3 linked regions of the Homo sapiens genome follow. The protein of the gene in region 2 binds, or shares a complex with, the protein of the main gene of each other region. Each region holds a gene or a part of one and is shown on either strand. Other genes may lie near its edges.

Evidence for each region.
Region 1: ODAD3 (region 2) and ODAD4 share a complex: the UniProt entries of both Homo sapiens proteins name them as parts of the outer dynein arm-docking complex.
Region 3: ODAD3 (region 2) and CLXN share a complex: the UniProt entries of both Homo sapiens proteins name them as parts of the outer dynein arm-docking complex.

Annotation. Positions count from the first base shown.
Region 1 is NC_000017.11:41,925,875-41,933,676, forward strand, and holds the start of ODAD4 (outer dynein arm-docking complex subunit 4), read left to right. Parts: upstream 1-4,742; 5' UTR 4,743-4,849; coding exon 4,850-4,963; intron 4,964-7,802. UniProt on the Homo sapiens protein: Component of the outer dynein arm-docking complex (ODA-DC) that mediates outer dynein arms (ODA) binding onto the doublet microtubule. Plays an essential role for the assembly of ODA-DC and for the docking of ODA in ciliary axoneme.
Region 2 is NC_000019.10:11,431,739-11,438,935, reverse strand, and holds the start of ODAD3 (outer dynein arm-docking complex subunit 3), read left to right. Parts: upstream 1-3,814; 5' UTR 3,815-3,919; coding exon 3,920-4,163; intron 4,164-7,197. Other genes in the region: PRKCSH (glucosidase 2 subunit beta isoform 3 precursor), read right to left, coding at 812-869, 965-1,060, 2,431-2,547, 2,740-2,818. UniProt on the Homo sapiens protein: Component of the outer dynein arm-docking complex (ODA-DC) that mediates outer dynein arms (ODA) binding onto the doublet microtubule. Involved in mediating assembly of both ODAs and their axonemal docking complex onto ciliary microtubules.
Region 3 is NC_000008.11:48,732,209-48,739,639, forward strand, and holds the start of CLXN (calaxin), read right to left. Parts: upstream 3,061-7,431; 5' UTR 2,944-3,060; coding exon 2,886-2,943; intron 2,477-2,885; exon of another isoform or gene 2,327-2,476; intron 1,052-2,326; exon of another isoform or gene 929-1,051; intron 1-928. UniProt on the Homo sapiens protein: Component of the outer dynein arm-docking complex (ODA-DC) that mediates outer dynein arms (ODA) binding onto the doublet microtubule. Seems to regulate the assembly of both ODAs and their axonemal docking complex onto ciliary microtubules.

The DNA.
Region 1 (7,802 bases), on a different chromosome or scaffold from region 2:
TGCTCTGTCGCCCAGGCTGGAGTGCAGTGGTGTGATCATGGCTCACTGCAACCTCTGCCTCTCGGGTTCAAGTGATTCTCCTGCCTCGGCCTCTGGTACAGCTGGGATTACAGGTGTGTGCCACCACACCAGGCTAATTTTTGTATTTTTGGTAGAGATGGGGCTTCACCATGTTGGCCAGCCTGGTCTTGAACTCCCGACTCGAGGTGATCTGCCTGCCTTGGCCTCCGAAAGTGCTGGGATTACAGGAGTGAGCCACCACGCCCGGCCAGACATGTATGTTTATTTACTTATGTTCTATTTCACAATAAAAGAAGAAATAAAGCAATAACATGAGGAACATAGCTATAAATGGCTGGGACACACTGGAATCCAATTCTAGCACTCTTTATCCTGCTAATCGAACCCAAGGAATAGGCCCCAACCCAGCTCACTTATATCCTTGTGCTGTAGCCTGGAGCAAACCTTGTCATTTCTCTCAGCCTCAGAGTTTCTCATCTGTGAAACCAGGAAACCACTGACTGGCTCTTTACTTCACTAGGGTGTTGTCAAGCTCACAGTGCTTTATAAATTGCCAGAAAGCACACATTATGATTGGTATTTTATGGTTTTTGTTTTGTTTTGTTTTTTTGAGATGAAATCTCATTCTTGTTCCCCAGGCTGAAGTGCAATGGCACGATCTTGGCTCACTGCAACCTCCACCTCCCAGGTTCAAGCGATTCTCGTGCCTCAGCCTCCCGAGTAGCTGGGATTACAGGTGCCTGCCACCATGTCCGGCTAATTTTTGTATTTTTAGTAGAGACAGGGTTTCACCATGTTGGCCAGGCTGATCTTGAACTCCTGACCTCAGGTGATCCGCCCGCCTCGGCCTCCCAAAGTGCTGGGATTATAGGCATAAGCCACCACGCCAGGCCTTATTGTGTTTTTAAAACAGCTTTCTTAATATATAATTAATGTACAATAAACTGCACATAAAGTGTACAATTTGATGAGGTTTTTGGTCTTTTTTTTGAGATGGAGTTTCACTGTTGTTGCCCAGGCTGGAGTGCAATGGCACGATCTTGGCTCATCACAACCTCCGCCTCCCAGGTTCACGTGATTCTCCTGCCTCAGCCTCCCGAGTAACTGGGATTCCAGGCATGTGCCATCACGCCCAGCTAATTTTGTATTTTTAGTAGAGACAGGGTTTCTCCATGTTGGTCAGGCTGGTCTTGAACTCCCGAACTCAGGTGATCCACCCACCTCAGCCTCCCAAAGTACTAGGATTACAGGCTTGAGCCACCATGTCTGGCCAATTTGATGAGTTTTAATACATGTATATACCTGTGAAACAATTACCACAATCAAGATAATGAACATATTCCTCACCTCCATGAGTTTCCCTGTACTCCTTTGTAATCTACCCCTCACTTCCCTACTGCCATGTTCCCAGGCAGTTAGTCTGCATTTTCTAGAATTGTATTTTATTTGAGATGTGATGTCACTATGTTGCTCAGGCTGGAGTGCAGTGGCCTGATCATAGCTCAACCGTGTTAGCCAGGATGGTCTTGATCTGCCCGCCTGGGCCTCCCAAAGTGCTGGGATTACAGGTGTGAGCTACCACACCCGGCCACATTTAAATATTTCTAGTTAATTTTTGTATATGGTATGAGGTAAGGATCAAGGTTTAGACTAGGCGCAGTGGCTCATGCCTGTAATCACAGCACTTTGGGAGGCTAAGGTGGGTGGATTACCTGAGGTCAGAAGTTCGAGATTAGCCTGGCTAACACAGTGAAACCCTGTCTCTACCAAAAATATGAAAATTAGCCGGGCATGGTGGTGCACACCTGTAGTCCCTGCTACTTGGGAGGCGGAGGCAGAAGAATCACTTGAACCTGGGAGGCAGAGGTGGCAGTGAGCTGAGATCACGCCACTGCACTCCAGCCTGGGTGACAGAGTGAGACTCCATCTCAAAAAAAAAAAAACTCAATATTTATATTTAGACAGGCATGGTGGCTCACATCTGTAAGCCTGGCACTTTGAGAGGCCGCGGTGGGAGGATTGCTTGAGTTCAGGAGTTCAAAACCAGCCTGGGCAACATGGCAAAACCCTGTCTCTACCAAAACAACACAAAAATCAGCTGGGTGTGGTGGTGCGTGTCTGTAGTCCCAGCTACTCAGGAGGCTGAGGTGGGAGGGTGGCCTGAGCCCAGAAAGCAGAGGTTGCAGTGAGTCAAGATCTCACTACTGCACTCCAGCCTGGTGGACAAGGCCAACTCTCTCTCAAAAAATAAAAATAAAAATTAATTAAATACATATTTACATTAAAATATTTCCAGTTGATTTTTGTATATAGTGTGAGGTAAGGATCAAGGTTTTTTATTTTGGATTTTGTCTTTCCATATGGCTATCCAATTGCTTCAGCACACATTTGTGGAAAAGAGTATCCTTTCTCCATTGAATCTCTTTGGCAACTTCATTGAACATCAATTGATCATATATGTGTGGATCTATTTCTGTTCCATTAATCCATATATATTTACATATTTATGCTAATACCATTACCGTAGCTTTAAAATAAGTCTTGAAATCACAGAATTTAAGTTCTCTTTTGTTCTTCTTTTTCAAAATGGTTTTGGCTATTTTAGGTCTTTTGCATTTCCACATAAATCTTAAAATCAGCTTGTTAATTACTGAAAAAAAAAAAAGGCTGCTGGGGCCAGGCACAGTGGCTCATGCCTGTAATCCCAGCACTTTGAGAGGCTGAGGCGGGCAGATCACCTGAGGTCAGGAGTTCAAGACCAGCCTGGCCAACATGGTGAAACCTCATCTCTACTAAAAATACAAAAAATTAGCTGGGCATGGTGGTGTGCACCTGTAATCCCAGCTACTCAGGAGGCTAAGGCAGGAGACTAGCTTGAAACCGGGAGGCGGAGATTGCAGTGAGCCGAGATCACATCACTGCACTCCAGCCTGAGTGACAGAGTGAGACTCCACCATAAAAAAAAAAAAAAAAAAGCTGCTGGAGTTCTGATTGGAACTGCACTGAATCTGTAGATCTCTTCCTTGCAGGAGGTTTTTTTCTGATTAATCCTGGTTGCTCCAGCAACAGTCCTCAACTCATCAATGAGCCCACCTTAACTTAGAACAGGACCAGTTTCACTGCAGGTCCTTAAACCTGTTGCTGCTCCTTAAACACCCTGTGAATGTACACACCTCCAGCCTTTGCACATGTTATTTCCTTTTTTTTTTTTTTTTTTGAGACAGGGTCTTGCTTTGTTACACAGGCTACAATGCAGTGGCCCAAACATGGCTCACTGCAGCCTCGACCTCCCACGCTCAAGTGATCCTCCTGCCTCAGCTTCCTGAGTAGCTGGGACTACAGGCACACGCCACCACACCCAGCTCACTTTTGTATTTGTGGTAGAGACAGGGCTTCGCCATGTTGCCCAGACTGGTCTCGAACTCCTGAGCTCAAGCGATCCTCCCACCTCAGTCTCCAAAGTACTGGGATTACAGGCATGAGCCACCACACCTAGCTCTCATTCTCTACTTACGTCTACTGGGCTCCACCATACTCACCCTCAGCTCAAATATTACCCCTCTATGAACATGTCTCTAACCCATCCCAGACCCTGGCTGAATCATTCATTTGCCTGGGTTTCACACCACTTTGTCCTCATCTCCCTCACAGGCACACAGAACTTTTAATTACTAGTTAATATCACTTAAGTGGCCGTTACTTGTTTATACATCTTTCTCCCCTATTAGATAAAACTCCTTCAAGCAGGGACCATATTATTTCTTATATTTTGAATTAAACCTTTTGAGATAATCATAGATTCATATGCAGTTCATAAGAAATAAATACAAAAGAGATCCCATGTACCCTTTTCCCAGTTTCTCCCAATGGTAACATCCTTAAAAACTTTAGTACAATAACACAACCAGAAAATTGACACTGATACAATCCACTGATCTTACTCAAATATCCCCAGTTTTACATGTATGCCGTGTGTGTGTGTGTGTGTGTGCATTTGTAGTTAAAGACATCTTTTTACTATTTAAACTTTAACAATGACATTAGGACGTTTTGGAAGTAACGTAGTAAAGGCAGTTAAGCAAGCTACTTAGGGTATCGTTGGAGCCCAGAAGAAGCACCTAGTCCACTTTTGGAGGAGTGGTGATGGTGAGGGAATGGGGAAGGACGTCAGAATATGCCTTGGTCAAGGCCCGCTACTAGTAGCTGCTCAAATAACTGCGTTAAATTATGTTGAACCCAACGTTATTTTCCATGTTTTCTTATGCAAATCCTCGCATCCCTGAGTGTTCCATTATTTTCATATTTATTTGGCAGGTGGAACATTCGAGGCTGGGAGCCCTTACATGCCCCGCGAGAGGTCACGCAGTTAGGAAGTGACAGGAGCGAAGTCAGCCCAAGTCTGCTGACTCCAAGCCCAGTGCTCTCTCCCCCTAATGGCGGTACGCCGTGCACATATCCTTACCACGTATGCCTCATCCCTATTCGGAACTTTGCCTCCAACCCTCTTCCTGTTTTCTTGGCTGTCTTACAAGGGAGCCTTTTCAGGCAGCAACTCCAGAGAGAACCGCCAGAGCGTGCAACAGCAAACACTAACCAGCCCAGCCGTCAGCCACGCAATCATCACTCCCTGGCCCAGTGCGCGGCAGAACTGGCGCAAGCGCACGCCGGCAGGTTGTACCCAGAATCCGGGCCCTTGCCAGACGGGGGCGGAACCGGAAGTCGCTGTACATCTCATGGTTGCTAAGAAACGGAGCTTCCACAAACCAGATAGAGGTTCTCCAGCTTTTCTTTGATTGTCTCTGCTTTAGCGTCTCTAAATCCGGTCACCATGTCGGACCCCGAAGGCGAGACCTTGCGAAGCACCTTTCCCTCTTATATGGCCGAAGGCGAGCGGCTCTACCTGTGCGGGGAATTTTCTAAAGCCGCGCAGAGCTTCAGCAACGTGAGTCGAGCTCTCAACCTATCCATCACCCCATCACCCGTCACTTTTTTTTTTTTTTTTTTTTTTTTTTTTTGTGACGGAGTTTCGCTCTTGTTGCCTAGGCTGGAGTGCAATGGCACGATCTCGGCTCGCCGCAACCTCCGCCTCCCGGGTTCAAGTGATTCTCCTGCCTCCACCTCCCAAGTAGCTGGGACTACAGGCGCGTGCCACCATGCCCGGCTAATTATTTTGTCTTTTTAGTAGAGATGGGGGTTTCACTGTGTTGGCCAGGCTGGTCTCGAACTCCTGACCTCGTGATCCACCCGCTTCGGCCTCCCAAAGTGCTGGGATTACAGGCGTGAGCCACTGCGCCTGCCCCCTGCCCTCACCTTTTGATTGCAGATAACACTGAGGTCTTGATGATGCCTGGAGGACCCTGTTGTTTCTATTATTCACTGATTTTTGATGGACACACTGCTGTCACAGATAAGCCCTGTGGTTGGCCATTTTCTACCAGTTCCCACTTGCAATCTCCATTCTCTGCGTTAACAGTGACCTTTTCCTCCACTTTTACTTAAATGTTTCATGATTAACCGGCCTCCTTCCACAGAGCAGCCTTACCTTCCCATCATTTGCTGGCAGATTGGATGGGAGGTTGCATGCAGAAGCCTCAATGTCCCCAGCACACCGTTGCTTATAAAAGGTGGCCAGTAAGCAACATATGATTATTATTATCAATTTTGAGACAAAGTTTTGCTATGTTGCCCAGGCTGGAGTGCAGTGGCAAGATCTCAGCTCACTGCAACTTCCGCCTCCCCAGGTTCAAGCGATTTTCCTGCCTCAGCCTAGGGAGTAGTTGGGATTACAGGCATGTCCCACCACGCCTGGCTAATTTTTGTATTCTTAGTAGAGACAGGGTTTCACCATGTTGGCCAGGCTGGTGTCGAACTCCTGACCTCAAGTGATACACCTGCCTCGGCCCCCCAAAGTGCTGGGATTACTGAGGTGAGCTGCTGCACCAACCAGCAACATTATTATAGTAACCCTAGTATAAATTGCATCATCCCACCCTAAGGGGATTGGGTGATGGTTTTTGTTGTTGTTGTTGTTGTTGTTGTTGTTGTTTTGGAGACGTAGTCTTGCTCTGTCTCCAGGCTGGAGTGCAATGGTGCGATCTTGGCTCACTGCAACCTCCACCTCCTGGATTCAAGTGATTCTCCTGCCTCAGCCTCAGGCACACTGCTAAGCAGACTGGATTTTTGTTGTTGTTAAGATGGAGTTTTGCTCTTCTTGCCCAGGCTGGAGTGCAGTGGCGCAATCTCGGCTCACCCCAACCTCCACCTCCCAGGTTCAAGCGATTCTCCTGCCTCAGCCTCCCGAGTAGCTGGGATCCCAGGCATGCACCACCATGCTCGGCTAATTTTGTATTTTTAGTAGAGACGGGGTTTCTCCATGTTGGTCAGGTTGATCTCGAACTCCCCACCTCAGGTGATCCCCCCCCACCTCAGCCTCCCAAAGTGCTGGGATTACAGGCGTGAACCACCCCACCCAGTGCATACTCAATTTTATAGATTAGGAAATATACAGAAGTTGAGCAACATGCCCAAGGTCGCTAAACTAGCAAGTGGCAGAGGAAGGATTCAAAGCCGGGCTCAGACTCCAATGCTGAGGTGCTAACCACAAAACTACACATCTGACATCTGCATAAGGAAACTGTTGTTTTTTTTTTGTTTGTTTGTTTTTTCAGAGACAGGATCTCGTTCTGTCTCCCAAGCTGGAATGTGGTGGCACAATCACAGCTCAATACAGCTTCAAACTCCTGAGCTCAAGTGATCCTCCCACCTTAGTGTTCCAAGTAGCTGGAGCTACAGGCTTATGCCACCACGCCTGGCTAATTTTTTCTTTTCTTCTTTTTTTTTTTTTTTTTTGTAGAGATAGGTGTTTTGCTATGTTGCCCTGGCTGGTATTGAACACTTGAGCTCAAGTAATACTCCCGCTTTGGCCTCACAAAGTGCTAGGATTACAGGTATGAGATACAGTGCCCTAAAAACATGTTTTTATGACCATTTCTTTTGCTCCAAATTGCCCACTTCTTCTGCTCCAAATTGCCCACTTCTTCTTCTAGATGGAGTGATAGGATAACCCTGTAGTTTTGAGACTTCCTGTAAGATCAAGCTTCTCAACAGCTCCCCAGAGTCGTTTGTCCCTTTCAGTCACCAACCACACCCTAAAACCAGAAATGATGACCAGATAAGTGAACAATTGAGTTCGGTAGCCCTGTCCCCACTTATTCTCCTCCTGCTGGATCATGTCCCATCCTGAAGTACCCACCAGCAGAGAAAAAAGAACACCCTGAGGGAAGGGTAGCCTTGGATGAGAAGCAGTCACTTTCCAGAAAGACAGTAGCTACTTCCTCTTCTTAGAAAAGTAGGAAGGTCTTAGAAAGGGGTGGGTACCAGGAGACAGAGGGTTGCAGTGAGCCAAGATCATGCCATTGCACTCTAGCCTGGGCAACAAGAGTGAAACTCTGTCTCAAAAAAAAAAAAAAAAAAGACCAGGTCAGGTGGCTCATGCCTGTAATCCCAGCACTTTGGGAGGCCAAGGCAGGTGGATCACCTGAGGTCAGGTGTTTGAGACCAGCCTGGCTAACATGGTGAAACCCTGTTTCTACTAAAAATACAAAAAATCAACCGGACGTGGTGGCGAGTGCCTGTAATCCCAGCTACTCCGGAGGCTGAGGCAGGAGAATTGCTTGAACCCGGGAGGCGGAGGTTGCAGTGAGCCGAGATCGTGCCATTGCACTCCAGCTTTGGCAACAAGAGCAAAACGCCATCTCAAAAAAAAAAAATTAGCCAGGTGT
Region 2 (7,197 bases):
ACCCTGTCTCAAAAAATATAAATAAATAAAAATAAATCATCATGCCTATGAACTACAAAAGGATCAGCTGGCAGGAATTGAGAACAGCTGTTCCCCTAGATGCCACAATCCCCACCCCTCCGTATTGCCTCATACTTGGCCTCCTTCTGTTGTATGCTTTTTTTTTTTTTGCTTTTTTTTTGAGACGGAGTCTCACTCTGTTGCCCAGGCTGGATTGCAGTGGTGCGATCTCGGCTCACTGCAACCTCTGCCTCCCGTGTTCACGCCACTCACCTGCCTCAGCCCACCGAGTAGCTGGGACTACAGGCGCCCGCCACCACACCCAGCTAATTTTTTGTATTTTTAGTGAGACGGAGTTTCACCATGTCAGCCAGGATGGTCTCGATCTCCTGACCTCGTGATCCGCCTGCCTCAGCCTCCCAAAGTGCTGGGATTACAGGTGTGAGCCACCGCGCCTGGCCTCCTTCCGTTGTATACTTTACCTGCCTGTGGGTGTTTCGGTTTTCAGGACCTGCTGCAGAGCGTGACAATGGAAAGTTTAGAGTCCAAGTGCCGGCTCTGCTATCTCCTATGTGACCCTGGGGAAGTCATTTCCCTTTCTAAACTTGAGTTCCCCCATCTGTTGAATCGGGAAACAATCCTACCTGCTTCCAGACTAGAGGGAAAGGTGGGGATTAGGATTCACAAGGCACCTGGCACAGACAGAGAACCCGATACAGAAAAGCAGAAGAGAGAGTGGGCCCGATTCACTGGGTGGAGCCAGGCAAAGTCTTGGGGTGGGGTGATGGGAGGGGTACTGTCACCCACGTACTTGCAGGTGTTCTCACAGATGACGCCGCTGTTGTACTCGTCTGTTCCATCGCAGCAGTCTGTGGCAGAGGCAGAAGCCAAGATCAGACCTGGCAGTGCCTCCTCCCTCCCTCCCTCTACCACCTTTCCAGAATCCTGGTGCATCTTCACTTACCACAAACACCATCGTTGACCCGGTTGGAGGGGATATACAGGGGCTTATAGCCAGTGTTGGTGCAGTGGAAGCTGCCATTAGGACAGGCAGCCGTGCCTGTGAGGAAGAAGGGAGGGAAGGTTTTCGGAGTCAGCTCAGGGACAGACATGTCCCATCCATCCACAGATAAGAGCCCCTGACCCACACTGCACACAGCACAAGAAAGGAAAGGAAACCAAAGGAAGGAAAGAGTTGTACACTGCACAGCCAGGGCTCGAAATAAAGCTCTCCAGTGCCGCCTCCTGCCTCTTCTCACTGAGGCCCTTCAAAACAGGGTCTCCACCTGGCACGGGGGCTCACACCTGTAATCCCAGCACTTTGGGAGGCCGAGGCGGGTGGGTCACCTGAGGTGATGAGTTTGAGACCAGCCTGGCCAACACGATGAAACTCCATCTCTACTAAAAATACGAAAAATTAGCCGGATGTGGTGGCATGTGCCTGTAATCCCAGCTACTCAGGAGGCTGAGGCAGGAGAATCGCTTGAACCCGGGAGGTGGAGACTGCAGTGAGCCAAGATCATGCCACTGCACTCCAGCCTGGGCGATAAGAGTGAAACTCCATCTCAAAAAAAAAAATTAAAAACAAAACAAAACAAGGCCAGGTACGGTGGCTCACGCCTGTAATCCCAACACTTTGGGAGGCCGAGGCGGGTGGATCACAAGGTGACGAGATCGAGACCATCCTGGCTAACACAGTGAAACCCTGTATCTACTAAAAATACAAAAAAAAACTAGCTGGGCGTGGTGGTGGGTGCCTGTAGTCCCAGCTACTCAGGAGGCTGAGGCAGGAGAACGGTGTGAACCCGGGAGGCGGAGCTTGCAGTGAGCCGAGATGGCGCCACTGCACTCCAGCCTGGGAAACAGAGCAAGACTCCGTCTCAAAACAAAAACAAAACCAAAGACACGGTCTCATCCAGGCACGGTGGCTCACACCTGTAACCCCAGCACTTTGGGAGGCCAAGGCAGGAGGATGACTTGAGCCCAAGAGTTCCAGGCTGCAGTGAGCTACGATCATGCCACTGTACTCCAGCCTCAGCAACAAAGCAAGACCCTGTCTCTTCAAAACACACAAAAACAAAAAGCCAGGGTCTCCCTTCACCTCTGTCTCCTGCTGGATTGCTCTTGGCCCCACCCTGTCTCCCACTTCTAGGGGTTTGCCCGTGTTGACCCCTCCATCTGCAGCACCTTCGGGATTCAACTGAAACCTCACCTCCTTGGAGGAGCCTTCTCTGACCCCGAGGCTTGGGAGGAGGACGACTCTGGGCTCCTCCAGCTGCCCGGGGCCATAACACTGACCACTGACTTCTGAGCTTGTTTCTGCCCACTCAAAGGGGAGCCAGCAGAGGTAGTATCTTGGTCACACAGACAGGGCCTGGCACTGAGCAGTGTTCAATAAACATCTGATGGATGAACAGAGAAAAGGCTCACCTGGCTCGTCAGAGCCATCTTTGCAGTCGCAATAGTCATCGTTGACCTGATCAAATGGGATGGTGGCCGAACCGTCCAGGCAGGTGAAAGGCTTGGACTCATCGTAGAAGTGATGATCTGCGGGGTACAGGAAGCTCAGCCCAGGGCAGGTAAGCGCCTTCTCCACCAAATACCACCTCTGTCCTCCCATCCCCACCAGCGGAGCACTACCGGGAAACTGAGTCAAAAGGCTGTAAATGCCTATCCCTAAGGCCCAATGTTGGCCCCTCCCACCTCCAGCCTGGCGGGAGGGTGAACAGGAGGACTCACTGGTGAGGGAGACGCCCCGGGGCCTCTTGACCTCCACGGCCCAGCACATGGGTAGCAGCAGCAGCAGCGGCAACAGCATCTCACCAGACGCTCTGAGGCCCGAAACGGGTTCTGTGGGAGGAAGCCTACAGCGGGGAGATGCGCTGTGTCTTCACGCTGCAGGAAGAAAGCGGATCCCGGTCAGTGGGAGAGGGCTACTTCCAGCCAATTGGATTCCTCCATCGCTTCCAGGCAATGAGGCCTCACTTTGTTTCCGATATGGGGGCGAGGGGCAGCGATCTCCCCAATCCTGGCCAGTCTCACTTTGCTCAAATCAATGGCGAGGATCTCAAGATCTCAAAACCTCCGCTCCCTGTGCCCAATTGTGACCCAATTCCCGCCAACAGACCAAAGGGATTAACAGCCTCCGCCGTCCACACCCACACATGCACCCTCCGGTTGCCCCCTGTAAGAAACTGAGGTGCCCTCCCACCCGCTCGTTCACACCTACACGAGGCCGGAGCAAAGGTCAGTATCCACCGCACCCCTCTTGTCCAGCAGCCGCGGTTCCTGCTGCAGAAAGAAAGCGGAAATTTCTGGACCCCGTCACTTCCGGTCGTACGTTCCGCACCGGGAACGGAGACTCAGGGTCGCCATGTTGGGAGAGGCAGGAGTGGGGGCGGTGCCAGAGCCGAGACGGCCATCTTGGGCAGGACTGTGAAACCTTAGAGAGGATAGTTCTGAGGGCTAGCTCTTAATGGCGGCGCAGCGTACCTCCATCTTGGGAGTGGCGGCTTCTCAAGCCGGAAAGAAAGTTCCTGAAAAATGCCCGCGAACCCCCAGGGGCGGGATAAGGTTGGGGGAGGTAGGGAAACGGAATGAGCACGTGACCCCAAAGTGTCCAGACCCTCCGTCCTGCGGCGCGGCTCTACCCCGCCCACTGTTGGGACCGCCCCTCTATGCAGCCTCAGCCAATGAGAACGCAGTGTCAGCCACGGAACGCGGGTGATCTCCATGGAAACAGTGGAGAGAGACGGGGAGGCGGTTACCTGGCAACCGAGAGATGCGGAGCGCAACCACCTAGCGGTCGGAAAGTGCATTTTTCAGAGCCCTAGGAATCCGAGCTGACGGATCCCTGACAGGGGCGACTGACTCCTAGTTATCCCCCTAACCCCTAGGGGCCTTCAGCCCCAACCCCATCATGACATCTCCTCTGTGCAGGGCGGCCTCCGCCAACGCCCTGCCTCCTCAGGACCAGGCTTCGACGCCCTCTTCCAGGGTCAAGGGCAGGGAGGCTTCGGGCAAACCCAGCCACCTCCGAGGCAAGGGCACAGCCCAGGCGTGGACCCCAGGCCGTTCCAAGGGAGGATCCTTCCACAGAGGTGCAGGGAAGCCCTCTGTGCACTCTCAGGTGGCTGAGTTACATAAAAAGATACAACTGTTAGGTAAGATGGCTCCAGAGGGTACAGAGGGTCAGGGGTCAACAGTGCCCATCCAATCTTCATGGTGTGACAAAGGTATTTCTCCAGCATGAGTCTAGGTAAACCGTTTCTGGGCAAAAACTCATACTTAGTTCATGTTTTTCCTTCTCTGTCTCTTAAAACTTCTCATGGGTTCAGAACCGACTGAACTGTACTTCATACTTTCTTGTAATTTATTTTCTCTATTTTTTTTTTTTTTTTTGGCAGAATCTCACTCTGTTGCCAGGTGGGAGTGCAGTGGAACGATTTCGGCTCACTGCAACCTCCGCCTCCCGGGTTCAAGCGATTCTCCTGCCTCAGCCTCTTGAGTAGCTGGGACTACAGGCACACGCCACCACGCCTAACTAATTTTTGTATTTTTAGTACAGAGGGATTTCACCATATTGGCCAGGGTGGTCTCAATCTCTTGACCTCCCAAACTGCTGGGATTACAGGCGTGAGCCCGCCTCGGCCTCCCAAACTGCTGGGATTACAGGCGTGAGCCACTGCACCCGCGTTTTTTTTTGTTTTGTTTTTTGTTTTTTGAGACAGGGTCTTGCTCTGTCGCCTAGGCTGGAGAGCAGTGGCATGATCTCGGCTCACTGCAACCTCTGCCTCCAAGGTTCAAGCGATTCTCGAGCCTCAGCCTCCTGACTAGCTGGGACTATAGGTGCGTGCCACCACACCTAATTTTTATATTTTTAGTAGAGACTGGGTTTCACCATGTTGGCCAGGCTGGTCTCGAACTCCTGATCTCAAGTGATCCACGGCCTTGGCTCCCAAAGTGCTGGGATTACATGTGTGAGCCACCGCGCCCAGCCTTCTTTCTTTCTGACAGGGTCTTGCTCTGCTGTTGAGGCTGGAGTGTAGTGGTTGGATAACAGTTCACTGCAGACTTGACCTCCTAGGCTCAAGCGATCCTTCCACCTCAGCCTCCTGAGTAGCTGGGACTACAGGCATACACCACTGTGCTTGGCTAATTTTCTTACTTTTTGTAGAGATGGGGTCTCACTATGCTGCCCAGGCTGGTCTCAAACTCCTGGGCTCAAGCAATCCTTCCTCCTCAGCCTCCCAAAGTGCTGGGGTTACAGGCATGGGCCGCTGCACCTGGCCTGAGCATAGATTTTTAGAGCCAGATTTTCTGGGTTGGAATCCTGGCTCTGCATAATAGTTGTCCAACCTTGGGGGACTAAGAGTAACCTAATTGTTCTCAGTTTCTCGATGTGTGAAATGGGGATAGTAACAGTACAACATAGGTACCTGAAATGTGTAAAGTGCTTAGAACAGTGCCTGGCACATAGCAAAGTACCATAAGGTGTAAACCAGTGGTTCTTGTTGGAAAAGGGTTGGTTTGCCCCACAGGGGCCATTTGGCAATGTCCTAAGACATTGAGACCAGCATGGCCAACACGGTGAAACGCTGTCTCTACTAAAAATACAAAAAATTAGCCGGGCATGGTGGCATGGATGTCTGTTGTGGGTGTGTGTCTGCCACTGGCATCTAGTGGGCAGAGTTGAAGATGCTGCCCAACATTCTGCAAAACACAGGAGAGCACCCCACGGCAAATAATTATTCGGCCCAGTTGTTGGTCATCCTGAGGTTGCAGAATCCTTGTGTGTAAGCTATTATTATTGCTTTTGTTGATATTATTAAGAGGTAATCATGGCTGGGCGAGGTGGCTCACACCTGTAATCCCAGCACTTTGGGAGGCTGAGGTGGGCGGATCATTTGAGGTCAGGAGTTTGAGACCAGCCTGGCCAACATAGTGAAACCCCATCTCTACTAAAAGTACAAAAATTAGCCGGGCATGGTGGCGCACGCCTGTAATCCCAGCTACTTGGAAGGCTGAGGCAGGAGAGGGGCTTGAACCCAGGAGGTGGAGGTTGCGGTGAGCCAGGATTGCGCCACTGCACTCCAGCCTGGGTGACAGAGTGAGATTCCGTCTTAAAAAAAAAAAAGGGTAATCTTGCATGGTTGCTTGTGACCTTAAGCAGTTTAATCAGCCCAAGCCTCTGTCTTGTCATCTGTGCAAGGGGTATGATATGCGTATGCCATGGATACCTATTGGCACGTGATATATGGCATTCGGAAACCTCTTAGTCCAGCATCCAACACATAATAAATGCTCACAGTGAAGTACAGTTGACCGTTGAACACCATGTGTTCACATATATCATTCATCCTTTCAAGTTAAAAAAAATTGAGATGGGCAGGCCGGGCACAGTGGTTCATACCTGTAATCCCAGCACTTTGGGAGGCTGAGGCAGGAGGATTGCTAGAGGCCAGGAGTTCGAGACCAGCCTGGGCAACATAGTGAGATCCTTGACTCTACAAAAAATAAAGTAGCCAGATGTGGTGGCACATGCCTCTAGTCCTAGCTACTTGGGAGGCTGAGGCAGGAGGACTGCTTGAGCTCAGGAGGTTGAGGCTTCAGTGAGCAGTGATAGCACCACTGCACTTCATTCTGGGTGACAGAGCAAGACCCAGTCCCAAAAAAGAAAAGAAAAGAAAATACAACAGTCCTGGAATGCAAAACCTGAGTATACAGAGGGACAACTGTTTGTATCTGCAGGTTCCACAGGGCTGACTGTGGGACTTGAGTATGGAAGGATTTTGGGGTTTTTTGTTTTGTTTTGTTTTGTTTTTTGAGACAGAGTCTTGCTCTGTTGCCCAGGCTGGAGTGCAGTGGCAGGATCTCAGCTCAATGCAACCTCCACCTCCAGAGGTCAAGTAATTATTGTGCCTCAGCCTCCTGTAGCTGGGATTACAGGCACCCACCATCATGCCCGGCTAATTTTTTTTTTTTTTTTTTTTTGAGGCAGAGTCTCGCTCTGTCACCCAGGCTGGAGTGCAGTGGTGCGATCTCGGCTCACTGCAAGCTCTGCCTCCCAGGTTCACACCATTCTCCTGCCTCAGTCCCCTGAGTAGCTGGGACTACAGGTGCCTGCCACCATGCACGGCTAATTTTTTTTTTTTTTTGTATTTTTAGTAGAGGCGGGATTTCACTATGTTAGCCAGG
Region 3 (7,431 bases), on a different chromosome or scaffold from region 2:
TTGAGAATGTAGGTGGAAGGGTTATTGCCTGGTCTTGATAATATAAAAGCTCAAATACCAAGTATGGGCGGAAGTTGGGGAAAATTTATTTTGAAACCAGTCAAAACTGTGATTGAGCATTTTAACAAACAAGGACAAAACCTGTGTGTGTATAACAGAAGACAGCATCTAGGAATGGAAAAATCACACCTCATCCTAGAGGTCAGTACAGGCATTTGTGGGATTTCTGGTTTGGAAAACCACATTTAAAGAGAAACACTAAAAAGTCTGGGAAAAAAGATTCAGCAAATAAATAGTAGGAAACAATATAATGGTTATGATTTCAAAAACAGCTGTTAGTCACTGTGGAAAACAGTATGATAGCTCCTCATAAAAATTAAACACAATTATTGCGTGATCCAGGAATTCTACTTCTATTTACATACTCAGAAGAACTGAAAGCAGGAACCTGTACAACAATGTTCATAGTGTCATCATTCACAACAGTCAAAAGACAGATGCAAGAGTCCATCAATGGAGGAATGGATAGACAAAATGTGGTGTATTCATACAATGAAATATCATTCAGCCTTAAAAAGGAAGAAAATTCTGACACATAGATGAACATTTATGGATATTGCACTTAGTCAAATAAGCCAGACACAAAAGGACACATATTGTATGATTCCTCTTATATAAGGTACTTAGTCAGATTTATAGAGACAAAGTAGAATGATAGTTGCCAGGGACTAGGATGAGGAGGGAATGGTGAGTTAACATTTAATGGGTAGAGTTTCCACTGGGAACAATGAACAAGTTACGGAGGTGGATGGTGGTGTTGCAAGCAGAACAGTGTGAATGTACTTAATGCCATGAAATTAAGCACTTAAAATGGTTAAAATAGTAAATTTCATGTTATATGTAACCACATACACACACACACACAAACCTCCTAAAAAGCAAGAGCTGTTAGTTGTTGCGGAAGAAAAGCCTGCATGAAGAATGATGTACTCTGTTCATGTACATAAAATGGTAGCAGAGGGGATGTTGGTTAGCCATTTTTCCATCTCAGCTGAAATAAAAATTTTTAAAAACTAGTTTAATTTATTACCCAAAGGATCAAAGGTTAGCCATAAGAAAACTTTTATTGCTAAACATTTCTTAAATTCTAGAATACAATACTAAATGAAACAAGAAAATTCAAGAATAGGTTTTCATCTTCTTGGAATGCTGTGAATGTGTCCTGCAGAACATATCTGTAGAACAGTGCATGAACTAGATGTTCTCTTAAGATCTTTCACTCTTCTTTGATTCTACAAAATTTATCCATTGAATCTTGATAGCTTTATTGTCTTGCAACTAAAACAAAATTTAACTTTAGGGGAAAGTTCTTCCGTTAAAGAAAATTTAAAATTATTATAATGTCCATGACGTATAACTATTTCTATAGACTTTAACTAATAATCATCTAAGTTTGTAAGACTCATTGAAAATTTTTTAGTAAACAAAAAAATCAAGAGCAGACTTTTTCCTGCCATATTTTTACTTACCTTTAAAAATATACACTCACCTTTTGATTGTTCACAGAATGATTGTCTGCAATGCATTCAAACTTACCGAACAGAGACTAAATCAAATTCAAACTTACGGAAAGGGACAAAATCAGTATTGTGTATAGCAGCTATTGCATTGTTTTTGAATATTTATCAAAAATGTTTACTAGATGTTTACTAGAAGAATACCTATTCTCCCAGAAATGAAAGTGTTTTAAGAAAAACAATAACAGAACAAAACCCTCATCAGAGTATAGTAGTCATAATAATATCTTAAATTACAGGATTTTTTTCCTAAACATTTTAAGATGCGTACACACACCATAATATTCATTTATATCACCATCCACTAAGAGAGCATTTCTTACCAGGTATTAAATCAGATACTAATGATAATTAGAATGCACTAGATCTTACAATCTCTAAAACTACATCAACATGTTTATTCCTTCTTTTTTGAGCGACTCGGTTATTTGGGGGATTGTTGCTTCTGTTTCTTCAAGTGGCCAGTAGTTTTGCAATTAGCACACACAACTTCTAAGTTTGCTCGACAGGAAATTATCTTCCTCATCTAAACCATACCCACGGCTTCCTTGCTAAAGTGCAATTATGTTTTTCAGTCTGAATATAAACTCAAAGTTTCCTATGAAATTCTAGGACCACCCTTTCAAATGCGAGATTAGAGCAGGTGCCTTCAAATAGGGCTCATCTTGTCACCTGCAAAGTCTCCTTTATCTTTCAACACCAGGGGCCACTGGAAAGTGGGAGTCTAAAGTTGGGAACCCATTCTTTACCACGTGTTTAGTTGTGCTGAACTCTGGTTTCCAAACAAATATTGTTCTGAGGCACAGATGAGATGACACAACTCATCTCTCCGAAAGATGTTGAGAAGTTGAGCACCGTTTTCTCCTATGGGTCTCTTGGTAAGCTTCCAGAACTTGGACCTGCGGGTGTATGTGCGAGCTATAAAGCAGGGTGAGTGCACGGTCTACCTTGGTGGTGCTACTTTTCTTGAGACCAGTTGGTTTTAGCATTTATTTTACACCTCATTGAGGCTAACATCACATGTTTCTATCAGGTAAAAGAAGAGGGTTGGAGAAGCAAGTAAATGCATGTGTGGGAGTGTAGGTAGCACCAGAGGCGGAGGCCTGGGTTCCTAAGATCAAACGCAAGGAGCTGGCACCCCGGGATTCCCTCTCTGACTTCTGCTTAAGGGGCCGGGGTGGAGGGGCGGTAGGTAGCCCACAGAGTCCCAGCAGGCGGGAAGCAGGCACAACAGCGGACCTTAGCACGGGGTGGGACCCAGGCTCGGTCCAGGAGCCTCGGCCTGTCCAGCACTACATTCTTACTTACAATGCTTGCAATTTTTGGTTAAGGTGTCCGTCAGCTTCTGCAGTTTCTTGCGGTTCATGTCTGGCGCTCAGAGAATCGGGCCGCGGCGGGGGTCTCTGGGCGCGCGGCTACCGAGACCCTCGCGGGACCCCCGCGAGCCCTGGTGCTGGGTCAACGCGGTGAGGTCTCAGTTACTGATCTCGTGCGCGGCCCTAACAGACGGTGTAGCCAAGGCAACGGCTCAGCCCGCCGCGGATTGGCTCCCAGGCTGCCCGCGACGTAGCCAAAGCTACAGCTGGGCCCCGCCCATCGGCTCAGCGACTGCTCGCGCTGGGTTCTCGGTGCGCGGTGCCGCCGGCAGGGTCCCAGCTGGCCGCCTTGAGGGCTGTATTCTGACTGTTGACGTTGGAGTTTAAATGTTCAGTTGTTGCTGGCTTTTGAGTTCGCAGCCTCTTTGCTTGATTGCAGTGTAAATCATTAAAATCTGAAATGTGGTGTGCACGCTGTATGAGAGGTGTTTCGGGTCGTGAGCGTCACGCCTCAAGGGAAGGCCCAAGATCTTGGACATCTTGGGGGCTGGAGCAGCGTCACAAAATAGCAAGGTGCTGTCCAGAGGACGATCTTGCCGGGCCTCCCGTCAGAGGGCTAGAAGCTTGCTCTTTGGGCGGAGCCACTGCTTAGGTTTTCAGTCTTGGTGAGGTAACAGGAGGCAGTCTGTCACCTGAGGTCTTCGAGCTTTTAGTTGTGTTTCTGAGAGCAAGGGGAAATTGGAATACAGCCACGGGTTGCCTAAGGAGCGGGACGCGTTCCGAGGTCACTAGGAGATTTCATCACTGTGTGCACATCACGGTGCACCGACACAAACCTAGATGGCCTTGCCTACTGCACGCCAGGCTGTATGGTACAACCCATTGCTTCTGGGCTGCACCCCTGCACAGCAGGTCACAGCGCGGAATGCTGCAGGCAGCTAAAACAGAGTGCTAAGCACTCTGGGGAAGGTGCAGTGTTCCAGTACAGTGTTACATCTTATGGGACCACTGTCCTAATGTTGTCTGATGTTGACTTAAATGGCGCTATGTGGCTTGTGACTGTAGTTTTTTTCTTTTCCCACTGCCCTCATCTCACTTCCAAAAGATGGAGGTTGTCTGTGGAATCTGAGGAAAGCCACGAGGAATTTTTATACTGCTTAAATAGGCATTCCCCCCAATGAAAACGGGCTGACAACACCACTTGGGTGTGGGGTACAGCCCAATCTTGCTTTTCCGGAAAATATCTCAGCAACCTTGGTCCTTTACTTATTTGAAAGACAAGTTCTGTGCCGGCAGACAAAGGATATTCCTTACATCTTCAGGGTGGGAGGACTTTCTGCTTTTCCTGATCACAGAGGGGATATCCTCTTTCAGCTAAGGCAGCAATAAAAAGGGGTGGCTCAGCCAGGATCACCAAATCTACAGTATTCTCCAGAGTGCCTGCTCGTTTAACTTCAGAGGGGAAAATGACAAACTATGTTATTGTACACATACTGGCATTTTTAGACTGAAGGCAGAAAAATTCTACTAACCATGAGTAATAATCCCAAATGAAATAATTCCAATGTCGAGGCCTCTGGTTTTTCTTTACTGTTTCATTTGTTTGTGGAATGAAGGATTGGGATGCTGTTTGAAACTAGAGCAAAGGGTGCTTGGTAAAGGCATGGACTGTGTTATCCTAAAGCAAATGTCCTAACAACAGTTACCCGATATGAATTGATGGTGATTATGAGTTTGTAACAGTAGTATTTTTAAATAGTGTTTCTACATATCCCCTTGTCTAGAAGAGTGAAATTCCTGAGACCATAGAGAACAAAAGGGAAAGACTGGACATATTTGAATTATACTTACCTGTGACACCTTATTGATTTCTGTTGGATCACAGAGCTGTAGCAAATACTTAATTCCTAGAGATTGCTGCACTGCTCACTTCAAGAGACAAGGAACCGAAAGAGTGGTTGTCAGTAATTACTAAGAGACGCTGTGGGCTCCCCACCTGATGTACTAGGCCTGTGTTGGGGAGCAGGCCTGCGCTGTTGGTGAGCACATTGGTGGTTATTTCTGGTGGCCTGGGGAGATCGCATACACCGGGTGCTTGCTATAGGTAAGCTAATTAGTTATTCCTTCACGAGTTTAAGGCCTAGAGCCCATCAGCCATGTTCCCTTAAAGTTAAAAAAATAATAAAAAGATGTAGGGGCAATATCACAGATTGTTGAAATTAAAATATGCCGGGCCAAAACTCCTTAACCTGTTGAGCAAACTTTGTAAGTCACCTCCTCCTCTTCCACTTCTTTTATCCTCCAGTTCTTTCTTCCATGCAGTTCTTTTAGCCAAAAAAATCAACCAATCTATCTATCTATCTATCTATCTATCTATCTATCTATCTATCATCTATCTATCTATCTTTCTATCTATCTATGCAAATGCATTGTTTTGTGAATCTCACTTATCTAAGAGAGTGATTTGCAGAGTTGACCTTACAATAAGGTCTTATCATCTTTTTCAGGGAAAGCACAATGTTTATTTGGAGTATGTTTTGTCAACATACGGGTAAACTTCAGAGCTTTCATTACATTCTTGTGAAGTTTTGGAACTTAATATTTTTAGACTTTAGAAACAAGTTGCAGGCCTGATTGAGTCAGTGAATAACATTTCAAAGCAAGTTGAAGTTTCTATTTGTAGTTTTAGTTGCTTATGCTGAGTAGACACAGGACTGCTTTCCCCCAAGAGCTTTCTCAGAGTAAGGCAATTAAGCCTAAGAGGCTACTTCATATTAAATCAATCAATAATGGAATAATAAAGGATTGTGTTTAATTCGTATTGGACATAAATTTTACTGTGCATGAAATGATCATAGAACTTTCCAAAAATCCAAGCAACCTCAAGATGAATAACTTTGTAAACACAGAAGTACATTAAAGTGACTATTAATGCTATGTTTCCTTTAGTTTTGTGTGCAAAACAATCTTCCCTTTGACTCAGCATTCACTGGATTGTTGCCATGATAAACAGCTTGGACCTTGACTTGATGAAATTGTTTTCCTTAATGTGGACCTTTTATGATGAAGGCCTTTGGAAACTGTTGAGGAAATGACATCATAGAATTGATCTCCAAGTATATCACAAATCTATTATAAAATTGCTTGAATAAAAGGGAAATAGGTTAGTTACCTGCATAATAGAAATTCAACTTTACTAATTTTATTTTGTGGAGACAGCGATAACAAAAATAAGAGTTATATGTGTGACCAGTTGTTTGGGTGGTCGAATCTCCAAATCTCTACCACTTGTCACTCTCCCCTTTGCTGTAGGGTTGTGGTGACAAGCTAGAGTCTCAGTATTCAGACCCACAGAACACTGTCTTATGCACAACTTCTGCATATTTTTCACCCCAACCACTCCCAGTGGCAACTCTTCAAAGAGCTCTTTCTGACACCCTACGTGAAGTGAAGTGAACCCTTCTCCACCCAGCCATTCTCTTCCTTGATACTATTTTTTTAGCACTTGCTACTGTGTGAAACAATTGTTTTTTTCTAACCTCTCCTTCCCACCAGACTAAATCACATGATCTCTCTCTCTCTCTCCATATATTTAAGTCTATTTCACTCGCTGTATCTCTGCATTTGTTTGTTTATCATCTGTCTGTACCTCTGAAATTTGACCACATGGTCCATGTTGTGTGGTCTGTATTGATGGAAAGTGGTAGGAGAACCACTCCAGCAGGAATGAACCCCAGGTTTCCCTGCAGCACCCTGGGGCTGAGTCCCTGGTACAGTAACCACAATGGAGCCTTTAAAGGGAGCTGGGCAATATAGAAGAGCTTTCATTTAAACTGACCTTTCTCCAAAATTCACACTTGATATTCACTGGTGTTGACGTATTTCTAGACTTTTTTTTTTTTTTTTTTTTTTACTGTAATCAAGTGACCAGCCAGTAAGACAAATGCCTAAGGTTTACTAAGGATAGGATTCTTGTATCTCAACATGTAATTTATAAAGTTGTAAATTAAGATGTGGCCTGTGACAGTTAATTATTATGATAGCCATAATGTCAGCAGGTCTGAAGTTTTCGGTAAAGAATCTGGCTCTTTGAGACCTGGCAGAGCTGACCAAGAAATCCTGCTGAATGTGCTGGGCTTGATCCCCTCAGCACTGGGTCATGCGCCACTGTAGCCAGAGTCATGGCAACTGTACTACCTGCAAAGCTGCCTCAGAGACAGAAGATACCCACACCTTTTTCTTACCAAGCCCAGGGCATCTTGCAACATTTGAGCCCTAACCAGGGAATTCATGAGCATCACTAAGCACAGAACAGGACCTGACCTACCCAGAGACCCCACCAGGCAATGCCTGGTCCTCTTAGCCAATGTCAACCAGAAAATAACTGGTATCACTTCTGATACTTGCCACCATTGTTTAAACCACTTCCCCCAACTCCATAGTTCTTGCTCCCTAAATGAAAAGGAAGCACCCAAGATCGCCTACCTTGAATCATGTTACCCCTTTAGTAGACTCTGTTTATTAGCCTGCACTCTCTA